4 separate regions of the Homo sapiens genome follow, and all the other regions are linked to region 1. The links come from fine-mapping of genetic effects on gene expression. A gene starts in region 1. Each other region holds a variant in brackets. All regions are shown on one strand. Distances are between the middles of the regions.

The links. PIP is the estimated chance that this variant, and not a neighbour inherited with it, causes the effect.
Region 2: its variant is the best candidate, but not a certain one, in a credible set for the expression of COL17A1 in whole blood (INTERVAL, PIP 0.57).
Region 3: its variant is the best candidate, but not a certain one, in a credible set for the expression of COL17A1 in whole blood (TOPMed, PIP 0.50).
Region 4: its variant is the best candidate, but not a certain one, in a credible set for the expression of COL17A1 in whole blood (INTERVAL, PIP 0.58).

What each region holds. Positions count from the first base shown.
Region 1 is chr10:104,083,934-104,088,967 of GRCh38, reverse strand. It overlaps COL17A1 (collagen type XVII alpha 1 chain), which reads left to right and starts at 3,088. Exons shown (of 56, transcript NM_000494.4): 1 at 3,088-3,245.
Region 2 is chr10:104,004,473-104,009,506 of GRCh38, reverse strand. It overlaps SLK (STE20 like kinase), which reads right to left. Exons shown (of 19, transcript NM_014720.4): 10 at 3,816-3,946; 11 at 3,472-3,595; 12 at 1,151-1,330. Among named protein-coding and RNA genes, the nearest start is that of SLK, 40 kb to the right of the region's middle. The variant CAG/G (reference allele first, on the strand shown) is at 2,708.
Region 3 is chr10:104,032,914-104,037,947 of GRCh38, reverse strand. It overlaps COL17A1 (collagen type XVII alpha 1 chain), which reads left to right. Exons shown (of 56, transcript NM_000494.4): 46 at 175-312; 47 at 835-903; 48 at 1,316-1,456; 49 at 2,385-2,474; 50 at 2,575-2,685; 51 at 3,181-3,327; 52 at 3,614-4,003; 53 at 4,573-4,710; 54 at 4,980-5,034. Among named protein-coding and RNA genes, the nearest start is that of MIR936, 13 kb to the left of the region's middle. The variant T/C (reference allele first, on the strand shown) is at 2,200.
Region 4 is chr10:103,986,743-103,991,776 of GRCh38, reverse strand. SLK (STE20 like kinase) reads right to left here. Exons shown (of 19, transcript NM_014720.4): 2 at 938-1,102. Among named protein-coding and RNA genes, the nearest start is that of SLK, 22 kb to the right of the region's middle. The variant G/A (reference allele first, on the strand shown) is at 2,268.

The sequences.
Region 1 (5,034 bases):
TTGGGGTTTTTTTTAGTTGTAATTTGCCCTCAGCCTGATCTGTTCTAATATTGCCTATTTTCTTTCAGTTGAAAGCTATGGGCAGACTTAAATTTTAATAATACACAAGGCAGTGGGAAATGAAGGTCCAAGAGTCAAGTGGAATCTATTAGACTCTGCCACTTATGAGATGGAAGACCCTTGGCCTGTTACTCAGCCTCTCAAACTTTACTTTTCTCAGGTATAAAATGAAGGTAATAATGGTACACACCTCTCGGAGTCGTTGTCGGGATTGTGTTAGAGAATGGATGTAAAAAATCTGGCTTACAGTAGTTCTAGAAAGCATTAGTTGCAGTCGTTCTTCTTTCCTGGGATCAATAATCCGAACACCCACACAGTGCCTGTAGGGAGTTGCTCCTTAATGTCAACTTAACATTTGCCACATAACCCAAAACATGACCCTCCACAGCCTGTGAGGCCCTGTGTGATCTAGTCCTGCCTCCCTTGCCAGCCTCTCGCCCGCTGCCTGCCTCCCTTCACTTGATGCTTTTGAGCAAATTGGCCTCATCACTCTTCCCCCAACTCACCGTGCAGCTTCCACCTGAGAGCCTTCTCAGAGACTCTTGCCCCATCTAGATAGTAGAACACTCTCCACCCTGCCCTTCACCTGTGTGATCTCTTTTCAACCTTCATGTATCACTTATATAGCAGGACTTTTCCTAACACCCCTCTCCAAGATTATGTCTCTTCTTACGCTCTCACAGTAGCCAGTACTCTTTCTTTCTGATCTTGCTCTGTCACCCAGGCTAGAGTGCACTGGCGCCATTATAGCTTACTGTAACCTTGAACTGCTAGGCTCATGCAATCCTCCTTTCTCAACCACCCGAGTAACTGGGACTGCAGGTACATGCCATCATACTCAGCTATTTTTTTTTTTTTAGTAGAGACAAGGTCTTGCTATGCTGCCCAGGCTTGTCTTGAACTCCTGGCCTCAAGTCAGTATGCTTTCTTTATAATAGTTATCATATTCTTGCAGTTGCTCTTATAATATATATATATATATAATCTGCAATTATATATTGTACGTAACTGTTATAGGCTGAATAATGTCCCTCCAAAATTCATATGTGAAGCCCTAGCCATTAGTACCTCAGTGAATTTATTTGAAGATAGGGTCTTTAAAGAAGTAGTTAAATTTAAGTAAAAAAGGAGCCCATCAGGGTGGACTCTAATTCAATCTGACTGTGTCCTTTAAGAAGAGGAGATGAGGACACACAGAGAGAGACATCAGGGATGTGCATGCACAGAGAAAGGCCATGTGAGGATACTGCAAGAAGGCGGCCATCTGCAAGCCAAGGAGAGGGGGGTCTCAGGAGAAATCAAACCTCCTGACACATTGATCTTGAACTTCTGGCCCACAGAACTGTGAAAAAATAAATTTGTGTTGTTTAAGCCACCCAGTCCGTCGTATTTTGTTATGGGAACCCTCACCGACTAATACATTATGTAAGGCCTGTCTTCCTCCATTAGACTGTGAACTCCATAAGCAGAGGGACTATGTTCATATTTCACCACCAAACTCTTAGCACATAGTTTAATGTCTGGCTCCAAGCAGGAGCCAATATATTTTTGTTTAATTCTTGAATTCATGAATAAAGAAATAAATGATGCAGGGGCATGTCTATTTTATGCTGAAAGCTCTGTGTGTTCTGGGTTCTTCAGTGTTCTTCTACTATGAAACTGACGGAAGACATATTGAGTATTTATTTGGGGAAGGCAAGAACATCCTACAAAGCAAGTGTCAAATTCTGCATAATTGAAAGGGTTCTGAAATGCACGACTCCAGTGTGGAATATGGGCAGCTTAGGAGCAAGAGCCCCACAGCTGTTGTTGTGGTCTGCTACCCTTCCATGGGATGCAGTGCCCACAATAGCAAGGTGCAGTTGCACATCGGTGCTATGCTGTAAGGGCCCCACTGCTCCCCTCCAGTATCTTAGGATAATGCCTCAGAACTGGGAATCCCAGTGTGATGCTGGGTCCCAGGAATGTGCTATGGCCTCAAAGGACTGCCTGAGTGAGTTCCAGGTTCAGACTTCCCATTTTACCAACACCAAGTGTCTCAAGCTAGTCTTTAGGCCCCCTGGGAAGCCAGATGCTATCCAGGTATTCATAAGAATTATCCTGATTGATGCAAGTTGACCCTCTAGGGAAATCTAAAGGTCCCCAGGATGTACTTGGAGTTGCAGGACATCTGGGAGCCCACACATGTCTTTAGGTGTATGGAGACTATGCGGTCACCTGATTTGAAGGACAAGAAGGTCCTTATCCCTTCCCAACAGCACCTCTCTCCATTATTAGGTGGCTAAATGCCTAAAATTCCATCACTAACATGTCACTCTTTTAGGTCAGCATCACTATATCTGGTTGCCTCTTTTGTAAAACGAACCCCTACCCCACCAATTGCTCAGTACATTCAGTCATTAGCATATTATGAATTAGTTCACCAACTATTTTCTCCAGATGGGCTTGACCTGGCTTGAGTCACAAGAGGGGAAAGAGGACAAAGACATCTATAGGGGAAACAAGACAAAGGACACAGGACACAGGAACAGAGGACGAAGACATCTATAGGGGAAACAGATCTTGAATATAAATCCTGCCAACTTCAGTTTTTCTAGGGCTCAGGCAGTATGACCACAGGCCATCCATGTGCCTAGACCATGCTCATCCATGAGCCCATCCACGTGCCTAGACTCATGAATCATGCAGTGGGATTCCAGTACCCATGGCACTGAGGAAGGGTACTGCCACAAAGTTGTGGCAGTTCTCCAGCTGTAGAAGGTAGGCAATAAAAAAGCATTTCCTTTATGCTGGTCCTTTGTTTCCTTTTCCCCATGGGCCTTATAAATAGTTAATCTACCTAAGCTGGAAGGAGAAGCTTTCTGCCTCCAGTAAAGTTTGATTCCTGGAGGCAGATTTTTTTTTTAAATCCAGCAAGTGTCAGATAATTGGAAGGGTGGAGTAACGCTGTAAACCATGACACACCTTTGTCAGGACATGTTTGGAAGCAAAGAGTTGAAAGAAACAAGGTGGAGAGAAAGAAAAGTGAACATTTTTGAAAGATCACTCAGCTTTAACACACCTTGGCTGGGTCTGGATAAAAAAAAAGTGAGCACTGCAAATTTCTAGAAGAAAACATCAGGAGAAGAAAGAGAGAGGGGGATTTATTCAAAGTTGTTTCCAATTCCTTCAAAACCTCAAACCAGGTAAGTAAACAGGAAGACTGACCTTTCTCCTTTTCTCTGAGACTTTGATTTAAGGTTTGCCATTTAGAAATTAAATGTTTATTGGAGAAAAGAAGATGAAGTTCTGTAGTTTCTAGCATTCTGGTTAAAGTGATCAATTGGTTATAAAAGATGACTTTGGTGTATGCATTCTGCTTAGGGTAGGTCTTTCAAAGGAAATAAGTGGGGAAAAGGAGAAGGCTGAAGGCTGGTTAAAATATAGCGGGCTTTAGAGGCAAGACCTTTCTGCATTGTTTTCAGCATTGTAAAATGACTTGTGTTGTTTTATTTAGAATATGATACGGGCTTATAATTCCTTCTCTCCCAATCTCAGTTTCCTCTCTCGCTATCTTGCTCTCCTCTTCCCTCTGTCTCTCTCTCCACTGGACGAAGAGAACAACTCAGGGGTGAAGTTAAAGTATAGGTAAGGGGGCCTTCTAGAAACAGTCCCTGTGCTGACTGGGCCTCTCTGATTAAGCCATACATGGTAAACATTGCTGTTTACCATGCTGTAAAATTACCTCTAATCTAAAGAAAAGTAGGATCTTTGAAATGATCTGATTAATTCAGAAATTTTGCAGGATCAAACTTAGAGGAATAAAAAAAGGAAGAAAATTGTTTCCCGTATATATACTCTTACGAGTCAACTTGGGTTTCCTCCTGCCAAAAAAATTCACTTTGAGATGAGAATTACCAGTTTAGATACCTAAGTGGATGACGTTAACTGGTAACTGACAAATTATCACTTTACTTTTTGAAGTGGAGGCAAAACCTCTGGCACATTCCTTCTTTTGAGAAGTAGTTAATCAGTAGTCTAATAGTGGACTTGTAAAACGTAGCAAGATTTTTAAAAGGTATTTATTTGAAAAGCAGAATAGTTTCTTCTTACCTCCATATGTTCTCTCTTAGAGCTAAGGCACAGATCTGTCAGAACTAACCTAAGACAGATGTCTATCCCCACACAGACTCACTCCAGAGATTCAGAGGTGTCCTGCTTTACTCTTAGGCCCTGCAAAACACCCACATGAGTCTGATCAGAGTTTACACAGGAACAATTAAAGTGAACAGCTCTGCTTCAAGCTTGCATAGAAACTTACCAGCCTGGGTAACATGGCAAAACCCTGACTCTACAAAAAATACAAAATTAGCCAAGCATAGTGGTGTGCGTAGTGGTGCACACTCATATTATACTAACCCCATCTCTACTAAAAATACAAAAATACAAAAATTAGCTGGGTGTGGCGGTGCATGCCTGTAACCCCAGCTACTTGTGAGGCTGAGGCAGGAGAATTGCTTGAACCCAGGAGGCAGAGGTTGCAGTGGGCCAAGGTTGTGCCACTGCACTCCCACCTGGGCAACACAGCAAGACTCCGTCTCAAAAAAAAAAAAAAATAGGAAAAAAACTCCTTAGATTGGTGAAACTGACCTGACCTAAGAACTAACCACCTTCTCAGATTATGAAAAACAAAAAGAAGTCTGTGTTTACATTGTTTGTTTCATTTGCCATTATTAACAGTGGCAGGACACAACTGTAAACAAACCAGCATAATCACAAAGCTGGTGCCCTATCCCACCTGCTCCCAGTCATGAAAATCCAGGATACCAAATGTAGCAAGCAGCAAACCCATCTCTGGGGTGTTACAGAGACAAAGCCTCCAAGATATTCAATTCCAGGGCATTGGCTTTCCTGGCATCAAACTGCTGGGCCCTTCTGTGTTATCAGGTCAATAGCCAGTGGATGGTTTTCTAATACTTTGGCAATTTTGTTGTT
Region 2 (5,034 bases), 79 kb after region 1:
GAAATGGAAGCCACATCAAATAAAATCACATACCATTTCATTCATCTTTATCTAAAGAAATCATAAAATCACTGTATTTATTAATGTTTGACTCTACCCTTTTTAAAGCAAATCCTTAAGATTCAGCAGTATGACATTCAATTTTCTTCTCAATTTAAATGTTAAAGTCAATGAATCTGGGTATTTGAGATGTGTAACAAAAGTGAAAATGCATTTATTAGTTTGGCTGAGGTTTCTGTTTGTTCCAACCCTAATAAAATTGATCACAATCATTGTCTCTGGTGTCTTTTATATCATGAAAAGGCAAATCGTCTTCCTATACTGAAGATGTTAATAAATTATAAAATTATCTCTGAAAATTACCTACATGTAAAGCTCTTTTAGTTTTAATTTGGGACAAAAAAAGATGCTAATATAATAAGTAAATCTTCCTTCTGAAGCAATGACAATCTTTTATACTGCAAACAGATTCTATAACAATATGAAACAGTTTCAGGAAACAATGAAAAAACTCATTCTCATCAAATGACTTTACAGATATGTTCCACTTCTAGTTCTTCGAAGTACCTCACAATTTGATGAGTTATAGATAGCATGTCAAATTTCAGGTTATTCAGCTTTTGTTTGGCACAATACCCATGAAAGGCAATAAAGCTAATCAACAAACAAAATCGTTAAAAGTATGAATTAAAGATGAAAAATAACTTATAAATAATAAAATGAATCACTGCTGCCACTGGCAAACACAACATAGTAAGTTTTCTAAAAAATACTTTTATATAAGGACTTAAATGTGTTGCATTAAGGACAATGGTAGACCTTAAGATGGATTAAACTCAATTTGAAGACCTGATTCAAGGTTTAGCTGGATATTTAGGGGTAGTCTGTGAACAGGTCATTAAAACCTCTCTTGAGGTGAACTTAAACAGGTCACTAAAACCTCTCTTACTCCAGTTTTCTTGGCAGTAAAATGGGAATAATGATTGACCTTATGACAACTCTATATGACTGTTGAGAAGACCGAATGAAAGAATGAATAGGTGCTATTTAACTCTCAAGTATTATTAGTATTCCTAAATCCTTAGATAGTCTTAAAACAATTTTTTTAAAAAAAAAGCTTTAGTAATTAAAAACAGTAGTTTACACTTACCTCCTTCTTTCGGTTCTTCAGCATATTCTGAAATTTGGACAACTCTTTCTCTTGTTCTCCTTTGATGCGTTTGGCTTCATCTCGCAAGCGATTTGTGTGCTCTTGTTCCAGGCGTTCGATAGTCTGTTTCTGCTGTTTTTCTAGATTCTCAATTTCCTGGTCATATTGTCGCTTTTTACTCTGTAAAACAATATAGCTCAAGATGATAACTTTTCCATCACCCATATTAATACCTTATAGTAAAGATGTTTCCTAAGAGAACATAACTAGTATTTAAATTTAGTAATGTACTATAACCTTCACAATACTGAAAAAGTCAAATGCACTAAAATATGTTATGAAAATTCTCAAAAAAATGAGTTCTTTTTTTCTAACATGGAAATTTTTTTTCTATTTTATTTATTAGAGACAGGGTCTCACTCTGTCACCCAGGCTGGAGTGCAGTTGCACAATCACAGTTCACTGCAGCCTCGGCCTCCTGGGCTCAAACTATCCTCCTGCTTCAGCCTCCCAAGTAGCTGGGACTACAGTGCATGCCACCATGACCAACTTATCTTTTTATTTATTTATTTATTTATTTATTTATTTGGAGAGATAGGGCTATCACTATGTTGCCTAGGCTGGTCTTAAACTTCTGCGCTCAAGCAATCCTCCTGCTTCGGCCTCCCAAAATACTGGTATTACAGGCATGAACCACTGGGCCTGGTCTTTTTTTTTTTCTTTTCTGTTTTTGTTTGTTTTTTCTTTTTGAGACAGGATCTCCCTCTGTCGCCCAGGCTGGAGTGCAGTGGCACAATCTCTGCTCACTACAACCTCCGCCTCCCAGATTCAAATGATTCTCATGCCTCAGCCGCCTGAGTAGCTGGAATTACAGGCATGTGACATCCTGCCTAGCTAATTTTTCTGTATTTTTAGTAGAGACGGGGTTTTACCATGTTTGCCAGGTTGGTCTCGAACTCCTGCCCTCAAGTGATCTGCCCACTTCAGCCTCCCAAAGTGCTAGGATTACAGGAATAAGGCACTGCGCCCGACCCAAAATTTGTTTTCTATTATACTAGTAGAATGTTCAAAGTTTTTAGATTATCCAGAAGAATAGCTAATTGTTGTGAAGTAGTAAGGCAAATCAGAAAAATTTCAATATTTATCCAATAAAATTTTTGATAAATCAAAGAGCTTATTTGAGGTCTACTTTAATAAAATAATATTATTAATAATATCGCCATTATTTAATAATAAGATTGTCATTTTCAGATTCAATCTTCCACATTAAGATTCTTAAAATAAACACCTTATTCTATTGGAACAGATCTTTTGGAATTATAAATCTACTCTTGCAACAAGACTCCTGTTTATATAACACTCAGTAACACTGTTTTTGAATACAGGTATAGTTACTTATTTGTAATGGATGTTTTCTTTTTAAAAAAATTGAAAAGTAAAACATTTTAGAAAGTATGATGGGGGAGAAATACAGATTTTATAAGGTTTTGGAAAACAATATAAGTACTATAAAAATACTCAATGAGAACAAAAGTTCACTATTTTCTTAGGAAATCT[CAG/G]TTATGATCCAACTCATGTAATCAACAATCCACAGTTCACACAAAACAATCTTTATCAATTAAAATTACAAGTCAACACAAGGACTATATTCAAAACATGAGTACTGTAACATTTCAAATGATACTTTTTCTAACCTACATTAAGGCAGATAGTCAACATAAATTACAAAAATTTTATATTACATTACTAATTCCTTTTCCAACTTTGGACACAAGGCAAAAACTGAAGGACTCAGTGACAGCTACCCAGGACTAGTCAGCACTATTTCCTCTAGCAGCAGGAAATAGAGATGTGGAGGCTTAACTGTAGAAGCCAGAGAATAAAGCACATTTTTAAAAAGCCCCTGAGGAGTCCTACTGCTCAGCTAGGTTTGAAGGCAATTGCTCTAAACTGGCTTAAAATCTTGGATTCCAAATCTGAAAGATCGAATTAGAGCACTGAAAAATTACCCAGCAATAGGCAAATCTAGGAACTTTGTTTACTGGCTTCATAAGTTTTCATGAGAGAAAAAACAACCCATCACACCATAAACCAGCTTAAGGTAGACTGGGATAGAAAATCCTTTCAAGAAAAAAGAATAAATCAATAAAAGGCATCCAGAACACCAAAAGGGTAAAAATGCCAGAAATAAATCACAAAGCTAGAGAAATCTGGCAATCAGAGAACAAGTTCTACAACCTTTTTTGTTTGTCTGTTTTTAATGCAGTAAATGTCATTATTAACACAAAATGATATAAAATGGTATAACAATCAGACTTTACCATCATTTCCTGCTCAAAGCGCCGGAAAATTTGTTCTCGTTGTTGCTGTAGTTTGCTATTGAGCTGTTGTTGGGCTCTTTGCTCTTCTTTCTGAAGAAATCTTAATTCCCGAAGTTCCTGACGTCTGATAAAATTTAATGGTAATGATAGAGAAGACAGCAAAAATTACACTTCTGAAATACGTTTTTTTTTAAAGCTTTAAAAATTTTCTTTCGAGTGGAACGGTAGTAAAAGAATAAAAAAAAATTAGCCAATAATTTACCCTTGTTTCTCTATTCTTCTGACTTTTCAGAGACTGAAAAGAAGTCACAAACCAGTTTTAATTACGTTGTTTCTCTACTCACCTAAGAAACCGCAATTCTTCAGTTTTGGAATCACTATCTGTAACTATCTTTGATGTTGTTACACTCACTTCTACACCATCAACAATAAATTTGCGTGTTTTCTTCAATGTTTTCTTTTGTCTTCTTGTTTCCTGAGTGAGATTTTATTTTAGTTAGGCTTTGTACAAGGAATACTGGAGGTAGAAAACATTTTCTTCTTCCTTAAACATTTCTTTCTTTTTTAAAACAAAACAACTGAACAGCCATGCAGACTACACATAGAAAGTATAAATATAAAGCAATAGACTCATCTGTGGAACCAGTTATAACACCTTAAACGTCATCTGACTTACACGTCTTTACAGATGAAATCAAATTTTTTCAAAGTATGCATTTTGATCATCTTCATGTATAGCTTTTATGACACATTATAATTAGGCATAAGTGATGAGCAGTTCACATAGCTAATCAGTAGAACTTTACATGTTATCCTTTTTTTTCATCTTTTCAATTTGTAGTTTCTCAGATACCTCTGCTTTTTCACTGACAAAACAATTAAAAATGAATTTGTGGGGCTCATCTCTTAAAAAAAAACTAAATTGACAGGTCTGAGGGTAGCTGGAAATCTCTTTTTTTTGAAAAAGCTCTCAGGTAATTTTTAAACACTGCCAGCACTGGGGATCAAAATCTACTTAATCAGTAACAATAATATCGACAGCCCCTCCCTCCATCTCAGGGCCAGAGATATATGTATGATTTTAGGGTTACTAGAAAGACAGTGCCTCTGCTGCACCCAAAAGTACCAGATTTGGCTGCTAGCTATGACCTAAAATTCTTTATTAAGACTAAACTCTTCATTCCTCAACTGGTATCCAAAAACATTTAAATGCAAACAGAAATAACAGACATATAAGACTCCTACAAATACATTTTGGTAAACTAAGTGTTCAGGGCAGATACTTACTGGGTGTTGATATGGAAGAAAGGGTTAGAAGGCAGAGGAAGCAAAAATGGAATGTGAAAATGCTAAACTCAAAATGCATCCAAATTTTAAACAGTTTCTCTTTGGCACCTTCCAATCACCTTTCTGCATCCTCTCCTCTTACTGTTCTCTTCTCCAAGCTTCCAGGATCCTCATGCTCTTCTTCCAAAGTCCAGGACTATGGTACCCTACCCAGGATTCCTCTAAAATCTAAAGTTGGCAGACTCCAAAAAATACACCTATCTACACCTTAACCTC
Region 3 (5,034 bases), 51 kb after region 1:
CATCTGTAATTTAGGGGAAGGACAGTGAGGGGAAGTCTAGGCTCCCTCCTGGCCCAGCCTTGGGCCCATGTGTGGGGCGGGGCAGGCATGTTATCATGTGCTTCAGGTCACCTCCGTGGGGAGAACATGTCCTCTTGGGACAGGCTTGACTTTGCTTTGTTCCTTGGTCGGCAGGTGACAGTATTAGATCTTACCTATCCGGAGTTCAGGGTCCCCCAGGCCCACCTGGTCCCCCAGGACCTGTCACCACCATCACAGGCGAGACTTTCGACTACTCAGAGCTGGCAAGCCACGTTGTGAGCTACTTACGGAGTAAGCCCTTCCCCACGCCCTGCACCTGGCACCTTCCTCCTGTGGGTCTGCTTTTGCTCCCAGAGCCTCATCTCCTCGTTTGCTGTTTGCTTTGCCCTTCTCTGGAACATGAGTTTTAATTCCGAATTCATAATAATCGGGCCACTGGGATACAGTGTCAACAAGGGTCTGTCCAGATTCAGGGCGGCCACGCTGGAGAGACACCGAGTGAGCCTTCCGGCAATTGACTAATGTGTTCCTAATTATAGGTTCTTCCCACCTGTGCATGAAGGTTGGCAGCATCTGGCAGGCATTAGGCTAAAGCATGTTCTCAAAAATAAACTTCCTTTCTTACAAAAAAAAAAAAAATCCCAACAACAGTATTTGACTTTGTTATGCTTTCAAAATAGCCTCGTAATACTCCATTCATCCACTTCCCCCAAAGACAAACAGCTCGGTGACCGGGCCTTTCAGATTCTGGAATAGTGAGGGTGTTGCTTCAGTACCTGCTAAGCAGGTAACCTGAGGTTTTCTTCCCGACAGCTTCGGGGTACGGTGTCAGCTTGTTCTCGTCCTCCATCTCTTCTGAAGACATTCTGGCTGTGCTGCAGCGTGAGTCACCTGTGGGGGGATCGAGGGTGGGACTATCTTTGCTTTCTCCTGGCCTCACTCGTCATGCAAACCTTGTCCTCGTCTGAGCCTTGGAAGGGCTGCAAGAGGGAGGCAGAGTCCTTTGGACAAAGAGCCACTTACTGCTCTGATCTGCTTGCTGAGTCAGCAAACCGGCTGGAAAGGGGGCAGGAAATGTCCTCCCAAGCCCCCATGCCAGACAAGCTGGCAGGTGTCCCTTTGGGAACCTGGCAGCTTGCTGGTGTCCCCCCTGAACACCGTGGTCCTGCGGACCCAGAACTCACAAATGTCACGCAGGAGCCAGTTTGTGCAGGGGAGCCCAGGCTGTGGCTGGATCATGGCTGCGACCCCCATGGCCTGGGTGGGTCCTGCTAGTGCATCCTCTCCTCTCCAGGGGATGACGTGCGTCAGTACCTACGTCAGTACTTGATGGGCCCTCGGGGTCCGCCAGGGCCACCAGGAGCCAGTGGAGATGGGTCCCTCCTGTCTTTGGACTATGCAGAGCTGAGTAGTCGCATTCTCAGCTACATGTCGAGTAAGTGTCTGCAGGAGGGGTGGTTGGGAAGGGCCTGGGATGACTGGGATGAGGACTCGCAGCGTGAACTTCCCTGTGATTGCCCCACTGACCCCCACCTGCCAGACTGCACCAACCCCAGCAATGAGCAGTGCTCAGAGCCGTTCAAACCTGTGAGCCTGGAGCAGGTCAAGAAGCATGGCAAGGAAAGCCAAAACGGGGGTCTCAGGCACTGTCTCGTGTGGAGTCTACATACAACTCTCTCTCTCTCACACACACTCCCATACACACACACCCATACTCACACTCCCATACACACACACACTCACTTCCATACACACACACCCATACTCACACTCCCATACACCCATACACACACATATACACACACTCCCATACACACACACTCCCATACACACACACTCCCATACACACTCCCATACACATACTCCCATACACACACTCCTATACACACACTTCCATACTCAGACACACCCATACACACTCACATATGCATACACACACGCATTCCCATAAACACACTCCCATACTCCTGTACTCACACTCCCATACACTCCCATACACACACACTCATACACACTCCCATACACACGCTCCCATACACTCCAGTACTCACGCACACTCCCATACACTCCCATACGCACACTCCGATACACTCCCATACACACACACACTCACTCCCATACACACATACTCATACACACACACACACAGAATGAAGCACACAGGCACACTGGACCTGC[T/C]TCTCCGGCCCCGTGGGCCCCTCCGTTCCTCCTTTGGGCTCCTCCTCTCTGCCTCTCTTCCTGCCACCATCTCTTTTCTTTCTTGGACCCCACTTCTGTCCAAACCTCTTCTGTATCCGACCTCCTCTCTGACAGGTGTTTCCATCTGCCTCCCCCTGCCTGATCTGAATCCATCACCTCCCTAGGTTCTGGGATCAGCATTGGGCTTCCTGGTCCCCCGGGGCCCCCTGGCTTGCCGGGAACCTCCTATGAGGAGCTCCTCTCCTTGCTGCGAGGTAAGGCCCAGCAGGGGACATCTGTCCAACTGGTTGGGGAGGAAGCAGAGTCCCTTGGCCCAGGCCAGGACTGACTCCGTGCCCTCCCTTGGTGTCTCAGGGTCTGAATTCAGAGGCATCGTTGGACCCCCAGGTCCCCCGGGTCCACCAGGGATCCCAGGCAATGTGTGGTCCAGCATCAGCGTGGAGGACCTCTCGTCTTACTTACATAGTAGGGCACTGTGGAGTGGGATGGGGAGGGCAGGGGATGCAGCCGGGCCTTGGGGGCTCCCATGGGCTTTAGCAAGGGCAGTCTAAGTGCTCCTGGAGCCTGTACAGTGCTGGGTGCAGGGCCCTGGAGAGCGCCACATGTGCTGGCAAGGGGCCTTCAGCCGTGGCAGGGACAGAGGTGGGGAGAGATGGCTTTCCCAGGCGCAGCCCGGTGTGTGATTAGGGCCGACCTGGGGCTCCACCTCTCAGTGACTGGAGGGCTGAGTTGAATGAGGCTCAGAATTGGGAGTGGGAGAGCCTGACGGGAACAGCCATTCCTGGATGATGTCAGGAAACAGCAGGCTCTGGCCTCCTGCTTTTCTCTCCTCCCATCACCCGGGAGGCCCAGCCTCATCCCCTCCTTTCAGGTGGGGCCCACAGCGCCCCGAGCACAGGCTGGGAATTCAGCTTCCTCCGCAGCACTACCCCGACCTTTCTTTCTCTTCCTTCTGCCCAGCTGCCGGCTTGTCATTCATCCCAGGCCCTCCAGGACCTCCTGGTCCCCCAGGGCCTCGAGGGCCCCCGGGTGTCTCAGGAGCCCTGGCAACCTATGCAGCTGAAAACAGCGACAGCTTCCGGAGCGAGCTGATCAGCTACCTCACAAGTAGGTGCCCCGACGGTGATGCCCCACCAGGCACCCCGCAGGCCTTGCTTTTCCCTGTAAGTGGGGCAGGGAGGCACTTAAAGGGACAGGAAGGCCACACGAGAGCCACTGGTGGGGTAAGCCCGGTTTCCTTCCACACCAAAATTCTCCCACTCGGGTACAAGAACCCTGAAGTTCACTTCTGGTCTCTCAGGGGCATTGACACCCTGGGAGAGACTCCCTAACTCCCAAGTCTTTCTCTCCACCGAGATCTGAGCTCCCACTCATGCAGCTTCTCACCCTGCAGGTCCTGATGTGCGCAGCTTCATTGTTGGCCCCCCAGGCCCTCCTGGGCCGCAGGGACCCCCTGGGGACAGCCGCCTCCTGTCCACGGATGCCTCCCACAGTCGGGGTAGCAGCTCCTCCTCACACAGCTCATCTGTCAGGCGGGGCAGCTCCTACAGCTCTTCCATGAGCACAGGAGGAGGTGGTGCAGGCTCCCTGGGTGCAGGCGGTGCCTTTGGTGAAGCTGCAGGAGACAGGGGTCCCTATGGCACTGACATCGGCCCAGGCGGAGGCTATGGGGCAGCAGCAGAAGGCGGCATGTATGCTGGCAATGGCGGACTATTGGGAGCTGACTTTGCTGGAGATCTGGATTACAATGAGCTGGCTGTGAGGGTGTCAGAGAGCATGCAGCGTAAGTGGGGACATTTAGGCCTTGGTGCTGGGGGGAAGGAGCGTGGGAGCATCTCCAGACTGGCTTTCTTGTTTGTGGAACCCCCAGGCTGTGAAGACAGAATCAAGCAGGCAGGGGCTGGAGGGGACAGGCAGCCCCAGCCTAGCTCTCAGCCTACTCAGCTTAAGGAGCCCCAGTCCTGGGACCCGAGCTGTGGGGAACAGAGCACGCTGGGGGCTTTGTACTTTGTTTTCCCAACACCTAGCTCGTTCTGGGTCCCAGATGAGTCATATGACCATGCTGGATTTTCTGCTGGGGCCGAGAGAAGGATGTTGGCTAAGAGTCCTTTCCCCGCGCAGCTTAACGGCACAGTTACGCAGTCAACAAGCTTTTGATGCCGGCCCACAGCAGGAAGAGACCTGTGCCAGTCACACAGTGGAATACAAAGGAAGTTGGAGGGCTTCACCCTTGCTGCGGCTTGATCTAGTTCAACTGCTTTGGGAGTTTGACACTCGGAGGGCACTGTGCTCCTGCTGAAGAGGGTACTGGGAGATCCCTGCTTCCTGTGCCCAAGCTCTGGTGTTTTACAGGTCAGGGCCTACTGCAAGGGATGGCCTACACTGTCCAGGGCCCACCAGGCCAGCCTGGGCCACAGGGGCCACCCGGCATCAGCAAGGTCTTCTCTGCCTACAGCAACGTGACTGCGGACCTCATGGACTTCTTCCAAAGTAAGGGCATCCAACTGCTTTCCCAGCACCTGCCTCACTGCATAGGTTCCCACGGGTCTGCTCCAGAGACACCAGTCTCATGAGAAATCTCCAGTTATTAACATTTGAGATGCTCAAAATTAGACAAATTCTATAAATTCTGAACTTTGTTTCCTCTTACACGTCCAAACTCCATCACTATCTCTCTGTGTTACTCTGAACAAATGACTTGATGTCCCAAGCTTCCAGGTGATCAAGACTCTAAGGCCAGTGTTTCCTTGCTTTTGCAGCTTATGGAGCCATTCAAGGACCCCCTGGGCAAAAAGGAGAGATGGGCACTCCAGG
Region 4 (5,034 bases), 97 kb after region 1:
TTTTTAACTAATTAGGTAGCTTCCTGCCTTTTTTCCCTCAGCATAATGCTTTATTTTTTTTTACAAGTGCTTGCCAATTAGAAATTGTTTTCAAATTCATTACATTATTCAGAAAATAATTTGGGAGGTAGATCATTACTCATCCTACAGATGAGTAAACAGACTCATAAAAGTTAACTGACTTATCCAAGTTCCGTAAGTGGCAGCACTGGGATAAAAAAATATAGACCTTTAGGCATCCAGTCAGGTATTCCTTATACTACTTACTCTTCTCTCTCATAAAACTTTGCTTCTTCCTTCAGGAAGAAAGACTGAAGCTGCATTTTAAAAAGTCCTCTTGATTAAACTAATGTTGGTACAGAACAAGTGATTGACAGATTATTATAATGAATATGAAAGTTTTATTTCTATATCTACTTGTACCTTAATATTTTCTGAAAATGAATAAAATTTATACATACAGCTTTAGCCATCACATCATGCACTAAAGTTGAACCTGATAATACGATAAATATTTAACATTTCTAGTATTTTACAGTTTATTACAAGATTTACAAAAAGTTTAGGATAAAAAATTATAAACAATTTCTAAGAGAAACTTTTAAAACTTTTAAATGATTAAATTTAAATTATAAACAAGGACATCTAATTTCATATTTTAGGAAATTTATTATTCTTAACCAAATTTTTCCACCTGGATCCAATGTCAAACAATCATGATGAAACTGTACAATCTGAAACATAAATCTGAACATCTGTTGAAGCTGAGAATAACTTTGTTATTACTCTCTTATCAGCAGATCAACTCTCATTCAAGTGACACAAGTAACTAAATAGAAGAGATAAGACATAAAATAGGTTTTAATAATTCATAAACATCTCTTTAGGACAATTAACTCATTTTGGCTACTCCTTTAGATCAACAGAAAATACTTACCCAAAGATTGTTCTCATAATAGAAGGCATCTAGAAGCTTGACTATATTTGGGTGATCACAAGATGCTAATATGTCAATCTCTACCATGTAATCTTCAAGTTCTTCTTCAGATTTAGTGTCAATCACTTTTGCAGCAGCTAAAACACTGGTCTCTTTATTCTGGGCCTGAAAATGAAAGTATCAGAAGTGTCACATTTCAAATGCATCATTTTCTAATTTTTTATTATTTTAATAGATTTTAAGTTTTAATTCATATTTAATTCATATTTACGTTTAGGCTGTCTTTTAAAAATAGTGTGTCAAGAGAATGAGAAGACAAGCCACAGACTGAGAAAATATTTGCAAGACACATATTTGATAAAGGAAAGTTTTAGGTTCACAGCAAAATTGCGTGGAAAGTACAGAAAGTTCCCTCGTGCTCCATGCATAACCACCCCCCCATCAACACTGCACACCAGAGTGATACATCTGTTGCTATGATGAACCTACATTAACACATCATTATCACCCAAGTCCAAAGTTTACATTACAGTTTGCTCTTGCATCTATGGGTTTCAACAAATGTATAATGACATGTAGCCCTCGTTATAATATCATACAGAATAGTTTCACTGCCCTAAAAATCCTCTGTGCTCTGCCTACTCATCCCCTCCTTCCTCCAACCCCTGGCAACCACTGATCTTTTTACTGCATCCATAGTTTTGCTTTTGCTTTTTCTGGAATGTCATATACTTGGAATCAGAGTATGTATAGACCTTTCTGTTTAGCTTCTTTCACTTAGTAATATGTATTTACAGTTCCTTAATGTTTTCATGGCTTAATAACTCATTTCTTTTTAGCACTGAATAATATTCTATTGTCTAGTTATACCACAGTTTATCCATTGACTTACTTAAGGATATGTTGGTTGTTTCCAAGTTTTGGCAATTATGGATAAAGCTTCTATAAACATGTATGTGCGGGTTTCTGTGTAGACATGTTTTTCAACTCATTTGGGTAATAAACAAGGAGTACAACTGCTGGATCATATCGTAAGAGTATGTTTAGTTTTTTAAGAAACTGCCAAATTGTTGGCCGGGCGCGGTGGCTCACGCCTGTAATCCCAGCACTTTGGGAGGCCGAGGCAGGCAGATCACGAAGTCAGGAGATCGAGACCATCCTGGCTAACATGGTGAAACCCCGTCTCTACTAAAAATACAAAAAATTAGCCAGGCGTGGTGTCGGGCACCTGTAGTCCCAGCTACTCGGGAGGCTGAGGCAGGAGAATGGCATGAACCTGGGAGGTGGAGCTTGCAGTGAGCCGAAATTGCGCCACTGCACTCCAGTCTGG[G/A]TGACAGAGCAAGACTCTGTCTCCAAAAAAAAAAAAAAAAAAAAAGAAACTGCCACACTGTCTTCCAAAATGGCTGAAAGAGTCTGCATACACACCAGCAATGAATGAGTTCCTGTTGCTCCACATCCTCACCAGCATTTGGGGTTGCCAGCAAGCATGGGTTTCACCAGTCTAACAGCTACATAGTAGTACTTGTATCTTTTCAATTTACAATTCCCTGATGACATATGATGTCGAGCATCTTTTCATATACTTATTTGTCAAATCTTTGGTGAGATGTCTGTTCAAATCTTTTGACCATTTTTTAACTGGGCTGTTCATTTTCTAATTGTTAAGTTTTAGGAGTTATTTGCATATTCTGGATAACTTTCCTTTATCAAATATGTGTCTTGCAAATATTTTCTCAGTCTGTGGCTTGTCTTCTCATTCTCTTGACACACTATTTATAAAAGACAGCCTAAACATAAATATGAATTAATGCATGCTATGGCTATGCACTGTGCTAAGGGCTTCATATACATAGGGGACAGCATTTCAAATCACAGCCTCTGGTGGGTCAGACTGCTGGATTTAAATTCTGGTTTTGCCACTTATTAGCTGTGTTGCTTGGGGCAATTTACAAAATCCCTCTTTTAGTCTCCTCATCAGTAAAAATTATCTACATCTCACAAGTTCATGAGAATTAAGATAACATATATCTGCCAAGTAAAAAAAAAAACCACATATAAACATTTAATATACTATCTGGCATATATAGAAGGATTCAAAAATGTTAGCTGTAATTACTATTACTATTTAATCTTCACAACAACCCCATGATATATTATTACCTCTACTTTAAAGGAGGATATAAATGAGCTTTGAGGGGTTAAAAGGCTTTCCCAGGTCATGTAGCTAGTAAGAAGCAGAAACAGAATTTAAATCCAGGTCTGTTTCCAAAGCCCTTTCTGCTGGAGGTTGAAACCCATTTATGCCGGAGGTTGCAAATTTTTGTGTGTGAAATTAACCCATTTATGCTAGAGGTTGCAAATTTTTTTTGTGAAAAATCAGACCTTGGCAATTACCTTGGGCAGTAGGATATAAATAACCCCCACAAGCTTAGCGTTCCGTTAATGGAACACTAGGCATAATCATTACCCGTGAAGGGTGGCAGAATACACCACTTCAAACATGCCACTCTGACATAAGGATCACTTTGAGTTTGAAAGGCACTTGAAAAATAGCAGATGCAAGAAGGGCATTCTAATCTTCCACCTTTTCTTCCTGAAACTAGGAGATGAAAATGTTCCTGTAAAAGACGTCTTCTCTATCCCAGGAGAAAAGAAACATTCTTTGATAGGGAGTCACAGTCAAGAGAATTGTGTACAAACAGACCTTGTTAAATTAAACATCTTCCTTTAGCCTCCCCATATAACATATCTACTTTTCTACAATCGCCTCTCTTCTTTCAACCTAACACAAAAGCATGTAGGTTTTGCCATTTCTCTATGACTTCATTTTCTTTTGAGGGCTCCCATGTCACATAAAACTTATATTAAATGTCTATGCTTTTCTCCTCTACTCTATCTTGTGTCAGTTTAATTCTCGGGCCCAGCAGGGACGCTAAGAGGGTGGAGGCAAAGTTTTGCCTCCTCTATACCCTTTCCAGTCTCCCCATATTTCTATCATTTGGTCATTTTTCCTTGTTCTTAGTACTTTAACTTTCTCGTTTTCCTTCTTTGGTTAACTTCTCACCATCATTTATTATAAATGAAAGGTTTCCAAATATGTAGTAGATACTAGGATCATTTTTAACGTTAGGAATCAGATCTTAAAATGCTAACTAGGTTGTTTTTATAAGACATTTCACTATGATGTATATTAACATCACTTCAGCAAAACTCCACTTATTACATTAAAAACAGATACTAAATTTTTTAAAGTTAATAAATGTTTCAATAAATAAATGTCTAAATCTCACTTTTAAGAATTTATCAGAAGGAGATAATTTCATAAAATAAAATTCATGCACATACAAAAATACTCATCAAAGCACCATTTGCAATAGTGAAAAAGTGAATCAGCCTAAATGTCACTTAACAGGAACCTGCTTAAATCATGCAGTACAGTTCTACAATGAAAAATGACGCAGCCACTAAAATTAATTGACTGATGTCCTGGAGATTTTAAAGATGTATCTTTTATACTTGTGAATGGGCTGGCATGAAGGAAGAAAAATAACTCACACTAGATAACCTCTAAAATTCCTCACAGTAACAAATTCTGTCATATATTGATTATACCAACAATGATATCATTTGGTTTAATATAAATAATAAAAGTTACATTAAAAGAATAGTGCCTCAAATTATTGCTTGAAAATAACATGATTACTCATCAGGATCTAGTTCTAAAAAACTTTAAAAAAACAAAACTGAAATAAATATTTACAAGTGTGTGACACTATTCTCTACACTAATATAACTGGGACATAAAGTATTTTTAAAAAAGAGCTTATCTACCTAATATCTAAAGGCATAAAAACTCTTCACATAGGCCAGGCGTGGTGGCTCATGCCTGTAATCCCAGCACTTTGGGAGGCCAAGGCGGGCGGATCACAAGGTCAGGAGTTCAAGACCAGCCTGGCCAACATGGTGAAACCCCATTCCTACTAAAAATACAAAATTAACCAGGCATGGTGGCGGATGCCTGTAATCCCAACTACTTGGGAGCCTGAGGCAGCAGAATTGCTTGAACCCAGGAGATAGAGGTTGCAGTGAGCCGAGAT